Homo sapiens: one gene and its partner. Changing the gene in region 1 together with any one later gene gives a genetic interaction. Each region holds a gene or a part of one and is shown in the gene's direction. Other genes may lie near its edges. The genes, in order: SLC31A1 and LRP8.

The links.
Region 2: changes in SLC31A1 (region 1) and LRP8 are lethal when combined (synthetic lethality), as found in Homo sapiens cells (one study listed by BioGRID).

What each region holds. Positions count from the first base shown.
Region 1 is NC_000009.12:113,252,502-113,256,422, forward strand, and holds part of SLC31A1 (high affinity copper uptake protein 1), read left to right. Parts: intron 1-3,612; 5' UTR 3,613-3,647; coding exon 3,648-3,776; intron 3,777-3,921.
Region 2 is NC_000001.11:53,265,150-53,269,070, reverse strand, and holds part of LRP8 (low-density lipoprotein receptor-related protein 8 isoform 1 precursor), read left to right. Parts: exon of another isoform or gene 1-1,146; intron 1,147-1,913; exon of another isoform or gene 1,914-1,975; intron 1,976-2,423; coding exon 2,424-2,598; intron 2,599-3,057; exon of another isoform or gene 3,058-3,319; intron 3,320-3,921. UniProt on the Homo sapiens protein: Cell surface receptor for Reelin (RELN) and apolipoprotein E (apoE)-containing ligands. LRP8 participates in transmitting the extracellular Reelin signal to intracellular signaling processes, by binding to DAB1 on its cytoplasmic tail.

The sequences.
Region 1 (3,921 bases):
TGGTCTTGAACTCCTGACCTCAGGTGATCTGCCCGCCTTGGCCTCCCAAAGTGCTGGGATTACAGGGTGAGCCACCGCACCCAGCCTAGTCTTGCTTTTTTAACAGTCCTCTACATGTTATCTTATATCTCAAAATGAAAATTATGACTGTTCAGTTTCCCTTTCTAGCTTTTAGCCTTAAAGCTCCTTGAGGAAAGACTCCATGTGATGTTCATTTCTTTATTTCCTTTGGTCTTAAGAAGGCACTCTTGCAAATATTCATTCCCTCCTCCTGACCAGGATTCATATTGATAATATGGAATGAAGTAAATCCTTTGTGGTTTTCTTATGCTATAATCATTTTTCAGACTCTCATTGGAAGAGAACAGTATTTGTGTCTTCTGCCTCTAGCTCTTTATGAGGATGTGTCAGTAGTCTTCCTGGCTAGCGAAAGTCTTTTCTTTTCTTTTTTTCTTTTTTTTTTTTTTTTTGAGACGGAGTCTTGCTCTGTAGCCCAAGCTGGAGTGCAGTGGCGCGGTCTCGCTTTACTGCAAGCTCCGCCTCCCGGGTTCACGCCATTCTCCTACCTCAGCCTCCAGAGTAGCTGGGACTACAGGCACCCGCCACCATGCCCGGCTAATTTTTTTGTGTTTTTAGTAGAGACGGGGTTTCACCCATGTTAGCCAGGATGGTCTTGATCTCCTAACCTCGTGATCCGCCTGCCTCGGCCTCCCAAAGTGCTCGGATTACAAGCGTGAGCCACCGCGCCTGGCCAAGTCTTTTCATTCTTATTGCATTTGTTTGGTTCAATATCATAATTTATGATCACTCAGATGCCAGTGATCTCTCCATCCTACCATAATTACCTCTTTATCTGAAAACAGCTGCCCACCTGCCATTTGCCCCATCACTGACACTTTGAGCATGGTCTTTATTTTATTGTGTATTGTATTTTTTAGTGTTTACTCTAAAAACATTGTAGACAAAGACTCTGTTTTATATCTTTTTATACCTCTGATGTAATCTCTTTATGGTAATGGTATCAATAATACCAGATTGTCGAGCTCTGTAATTTTTTTTTTTTTTTTTTTTGAAATGGAGTCTTGCTCTGCTGACCAGGCTGGAGTGCAGTGGCATGATCTCTGCTCACCACAACCTCCGCCTCCCAGGTTTGAGCAATTCTCTGCCTCAGCCTCCCGAGTAGCTGGGATTACAGGCGCGTGCCACCAAGCCCAGCTAATTTTTGTATTTTTAGTAAAGACGGGGTTTCACTGTTGAGCTCTATAATTATAAAATAATGTAGTGTCTGGCATGAAAGTGGATCTTTGATTATGCCTACCTGATGCTTTGCCTTATCCTTCACTAGAAATAAGAACCTATTTCTTAAGCCAGCTGTCATAGAACTATGGGGTAGGAGTTAACAAGGAGAAAATAAATAGATGGCTCCCTGAATCTATATAAATTTCCTACCCACAGTCTTTTTTTTTTTTTTTTTTTGAGATAGTCTCCTGTCACCTAGGCTGGAGTGCGGTAGTCCAACCTTGACTCACTGAAACCTCCACCTCCCAGGTTCAAGTGATTCTCATGCCTCAGCCACCCGAGTAACTGGGATTACAGGTGCATGCCACCACACCTGGCTAATTTTTTTGTTTTAGTAGAGATGGGGTTTCATCATGTTGGCCAGGCTGGTCTCGAACTCCTGGCCTCAAGTGATCTGCCTGCCTCAGCCTCCCAAAGTGCTGGGATAACAGGCATGAGCCACCGCGCCTGGCCAATTTATTCTTTACCTCTTGGTAATTGTGTCTTATTTCTCAGCTTATTTCCTTCACAGCATGAAATTATATTTATTGTTTCTCTCCCTATCAGGAACCTTGTCTTATTCATTGTTGAATTATTAGCACCTAGCTCAGAGTTTGGTATATAATAGGAGCTTGATAAATATTGAGTGAATGAATAATGAAAAGCATACTTGGTTTCATGAACATGAATACCTACTTGGAATTTTTAAAACCACTTTTTCTTCCACAGACTGGACTTGAGGGACACATAAAGAGAATCCACCAACACCTCCCCCTCCACACACACCAGCTTCCCATTCTCCCACTCCAACTCTAGCTATAGGAGTTATTGTTCCTGGGCCGGGCACGGTAGCTCAAGCCTATAATCCCAGTACTTTGGGAGGCCGAGTTGGACAGATCACTTGAGCTCAGGAGTTTGAGACCAGCATGGCCAACATGGTGAAACCCCATCTCTACTAAAAATTTAAAAATTAGCCAGGTGTGGTAGCATGCACCTGTAATCCCAGCTACTCGGCAAGCTGAGGCATGAGAGTCACTTGAATCCAGGAGGCAGAGGTTGCAGTGAGCCGAGATCACACCACTGCACTCCAGCCTGGGCAACCATGCAAAACTCTGTCTCAAAAATAAATAAATAAAAGGAATTATTGCTCCTTGGTTTATGTCCCAGATGGACTTTTGCAGCAATACAGTGATGTGGTAGTAAAGATACAAGGCTGAATTTGCAGTTGTCTAGACTTAATTTAATATAGAGTATCCAATTTATACCTTGTTTTTCATGTTCTTCACTCTAATGTCCTGGTAGGATTGAAATTGTATCTGAAGTCTGAGCACACTGCGTGCCTAGGGCCATAGTAGACCTTTCTTCAAATTTAAATTAGCTGAAGGCTGGTTGTCCTGTATGTGAAAATGTAATCCAAATATCCTGATTAGGCACAGGCCATCCCAATTAGGTGAATTATCTGAAGTCCTTGCTTTTTATCTGCTGACATTTATGATTAGAAAGCCTTAAAGCAGTTAAATTTCATTAATGGCATTCATTTGTATCTTATTACAGATTGCCTGTTTCCTGCAACCCAAAGAAGCTGCTTTCCTTCTCCTTATCTAATATTTAAGTTTGAACATATATTAAGCATACCTATTAAAGGAACTATACTGGTGGGGCACAGTGGCTTACACCTGTAATCCCAACACTTTGGGAGGCCAAGGCAAGAGGATTGCTTGAGCTCAGGAGTTCGAGACCTGCCTGGGCAACACGAGACCTCATCTGTACGATAAAACAAAAAATTAGCTGAGCGTGGTAGTGGTGCAGGCCTGTGATTCCACCTACTCAGGAGGCTGAGGTTGAGGCTGTGGTGAGTTGCACTCCAGCCTGGGTGATGGAGCAAGACCCTGTCTCAAAAAAAAAGGAACAATTCTGCAGAATAAGGAAGGGTTAGGCATCTGTAGCCCTACGTGTAAACCCTTTCTGCTACAGTCTCCAAAAGTGATCCCTATTAGCACGAGTTCTTTCTCTCTCCATCTGTAGATTATGAAAAATAATTCTGAGTAAAGATGCTAGGAGAGCATTCATTTATTAGATGCATTCCATATAGACAAAGTATTTACCAAGAAACAAGCCCAGGAGCAGGGAACCACCAGGTTGCCTGGTGAACCAGCCTAGATCAGAAATGGAGCAGGTCAAAACTCCTGTACTGATCAGTAGTGGGATCATGCCTGTGAATAGCCATTGCATTCCAGCCTGGGCAACATAGCAAGATTCCATCTCTAAAAATAAAAAAAAGAGATAAGATTTTTATATCCTTAAATTATTATATATAATTCTTTCTCTTAAAAGAATCTTCTGCTGACTCTCAACTTTTCCTGGAAAAAATGGATCATTCCCACCATATGGGGATGAGCTATATGGACTCCAACAGTACCATGCAACCTTCTCACCATCACCCAACCACTTCAGCCTCACACTCCCATGGTGGAGGAGACAGCAGCATGATGATGATGGTGAGTGCCATAGGAGGGGCAATGCAGGCCCTTTCCCACCCACTTGGGTAATAGAAATAATGGAATTTTAGTACTGGAAGCTTATTATCTTTAAAGGTCAGTTTACCAGTGAGGATAACTAAAGCAGACCCAAGCAAGTCAAGTC
Region 2 (3,921 bases), on another chromosome or scaffold:
CTGGATTTCACTCTAACTGGGGGGAAACCATTGAGGGCTCTGAGTAGGGAAGGGACATGGTGTGACATTTTATTCTGACTGCAGTATTGAGAACAGACTGTAGAGGACAAGGGAGAAGGCAGGGAAACCACTTAAGAGGTCATTGCAATAATCCAGAAGCGAGGTGATGGTGGCTGAACCCTTATTCCCACATTATTACTGTGGGAATAATGAAAAGTGGACAGACTGCAGATATAGTGCAAAGGCCAGCCAACAGGATTTGCTTATGAATTGAATGTGGAATGTGGAAAAAAAAGTTACAGCAACTGAAAAAATAAGATTGCTACGTATGGGCTTGGGAAAGATGGTGAGGGAAGCAGGTTTGGAGGAATCTTAGGCTGTTTTGGACATGTTATGTTTAAGAAAACTGGTTAGGTATCCAAGTAGAGATATTGAGAAGGCAGCTGGATATATGAGTCTGGAGTTCATATGCAAGTTAAATACAATATACAACAGATAAATTATAACAATACAGCAGCCATAATACTGACATGTAGCCCATAAACCCAAAAACTGTAACACCCAAACTGTACAATATGTAACTCATACATTAGTATATCACATATAACGTGTAACCTGTTCTTGCCCCCATATAGAACACATGTAATACATGACACAGATTATGTACATGCACTGGAGACAACATGCAACTACCCATGCATATACAAAATCCACACACATGAATATTTCAAGTGCAGTTACATAAAATCTCAAATCATAAACACAGGGGGTTCCTGTCACAGTCACAGCTGTCATTTAAGATCACTCCAACATGCCCCTTTAACCTGGCTCCTGCCTTCAGGGAGGTGAAGTGTCATTACTGTCATTTTGGGGTGAGGGAAATCACAGCTTGTCAGTGGCAGAGCTGGCCTGTAACTCAGCTTTCATCCTTGCCCCTTCCTGCACCTTGAGCCCATTCTCCATGCTATTTGTACCACACTTCTGTCTCACTCCCACCCTGCTTTGAATTAGTCTCCATCACTACACACAGGTCACACACCCAGCCCCAGGCCCTACCTGACTCTGTGCTGGTCCCATCCTCCAGGGAGCACATTAGCTTGGCAAAGATGCACAGTGACAGGGACTGGTGGCTGGCAGAAGTGTCAGCTGGAAAACAAGAGAAGGAGGCACAGGGAGCTTGAGGGGCAGGTGTTACTAGGAGCAGCCCCTCAGACAGTGTTGGTGCCTGAGAGTGGCCCAATACATCTAGAAACAGCCTGTGGGAGCTGGTGCTAGGCCCTCAGAGGCCCATGGGACAGTGTCCTCCCATATGGAGTAGCCAGGAAAGTCTAGGTCACTTATTTATCATCTTAAAATCTAACCCTAAATCTAAGAAAAATACAGGTTTTGTGTATACATGAGCAGTTTATGTTGTCTCTACTGCATATATATAATCTGTGTTGTATATCATATATGTCCCATCTCTGCCATTGGCTCAGGATAGAGAACAAACTCACCCAGCTCATAGGACCTTTTGTGATCTGGCCCCTGCCAATCTCTGAAGCTCATCTCTTGCTATGTCCCCAATACTTTCTATCCTGAATCATCTTTTTTTTTTTCCTTTGAGACAGAGTCTCTGTCACTCAGGCTGGAGTGCAGTGGCACAATCATGGCTCACTGCAGCCTTAACCTCCCGGGCTCAAATGATTCTCCCACTTCAGCCTCCTGAGTAGCTGGGACTACAGGCATGTGCCACCATGCCCAGCTAATTTTTTTTTTATTTTTATTTTTAGAGATGGGATTTTGCCATATTACCCAGGCTAGTCTCAAACTCCTGGCCTCAAGCGATGTGCCAGCCTCAGCCTCCTAAAGTGCTGGGATTACAGGTGTGAGCCACTGTGCCTGGCCCCTAGTTATCTTTCTAAGACACTTACTTGCTCAGGTAGTTCCTTCTTGAACCACAGCAGTAGGGCCCAAGCAGAGAAGATGATAGTTGCTGGAAAGAAATACATAGTAGGTGGAAGGGACAACCTGAGCAAAGGCTCTGAGGCAGGAAGCCCATCCATGGCTAGGTAATGGTATCTGGTAGGTGGAATCAAGCTATGTTGGAGAGGCGAGTAATGAGGCTGGACAGGGAACTTGGGGTCACACTGTGGAAGGCTTTCAGTGCAGGCCTAAGGAGAAAATGGGGAGCCATAAAAGATTTTGGAGAAGTTTGTATCTAATAAAAAGAATAAGAATCTTCCTGCTATGCGTGGTGCTCTGCATCTTCTGCTTTCTGTACTCATTATTTCATCTGCTCCTGCAACCTGTAAAGTAGGAATTGTCACTACTATTTTAAGGAAAATGGATGTGTCAGCCAGCAAGCCAGTGGCAGAGTCTTGGTCTCCAGGCTCCCTGCCTCTTGCACTGACTCTTTCTCTTTCAACCTCCCTGCATGACAGCTGGCAAGAGCCCATCCCTAATCTTCACCAACCGGCACGAGGTGCGGAGGATCGACCTGGTGAAGCGGAACTATTCACGCCTCATCCCCATGCTCAAGAATGTCGTGGCACTAGATGTGGAAGTTGCCACCAATCGCATCTACTGGTGTGACCTCTCCTACCGTAAGATCTATAGGTGAGCGGCCATATCCTCTGCAGCAAGGCATGAAGAGTGGGGGTGAGGGGTGGTGACAGGTGAGGAGGGGAGGAGTGGTGTCTGCCTCTAGAGCTCCTCAGGACAGAGTTGGGACTTGGGAAGAGATGCAGGATCACAGTGGATATGGAACTTCTGGGACTTTACTGGGGCTGGAGTAGTCTGAGGGCTCCCTTGGGTTAGCAGCTTTGAGCCCCAAACACCTGGGATTTGTCTGACCTCTGGAGGCCTAATATGGAAGCACAAGACACAGGAACTGTTTGGCCAGGGCAGAAAGGAAGAAATCCTGGCTTTGGGGAGGACTTTCCAAGCAGCTCACATCCCTGTGTGTTGGAACCTGGGGACTTAGACCTGGTCCCTGCCCAGAGGATCCCACTCACAACACAGTGACATCCATTTGTGATGATCATGAGAAAGTACAGAGGAGGCCTCCGAACCCACCTGGGCATCTGATCTGGCATGCCTTCCTGGATGGCATCACCCCAAGGCCAGCTTTTCACTGTCTTTGACGCCACAGTCAGTGGACCTGGTGCTTGGGAAGCTCTTCACACACTGGAGGAGGTTCTCTCCTAGGACTTTCTCAGATGCCAGCACCTGCCCCACTGCATGTCTGGGCCCTCTTCAGGCAGTCATGTCCTTTCTTTGTCCTGAGATCCACTTGGCAGGAATGCCGATGACCAGGCGCTGGGTAGACACTGAGTCACTGATGAAAGAATGATGGGACAGATGGGTGGAAGAGTGGATGGAAGCAAATATAGCAAGTGCTACTCACTGACAACTAGATTCCTGCCTCCCTGCAACATACAGACACTCCGTTCACACACACCCAAAAACATAACTAGAACAATGCCTGTCCAAGAGATGTAACTGAAAGAGGCAGGATTTGGTGACAGACTAGATATGGGGCTGATGGAAGAAATTTACTCCTTCATAGTGAATTTTGGGAGTTTCAGGTTTTTGGCTTGGGAGGTTTCATGAATGGTGGTGCTGTTCTCTGATGTGTGAAGCAGTAGAGGAGGATCAGGGCTCAGGGTTTGGGCCGTCTGGTTGGCCGAGGGGAAGGGAATGGGGATGAACAGTTTTGGACATATTGAGTTCAAGGTGTCCATGGGACATCCAAGGGGAGCTAGTTAGCTTTGCAGTCTGGATCGTAAGAGAGCTGTTGGGATTGGAGACTTAGTTATTGATGGCAGTGGACACTAAGGAACTAATCACCCAGAGAGAGGGCAAGAAGAAGAAAACCTCTGGGGAAACAGCATTTGCTATTTTGCTAATGTTGCCTCCTGAGTGTCTACTGTATTCTTA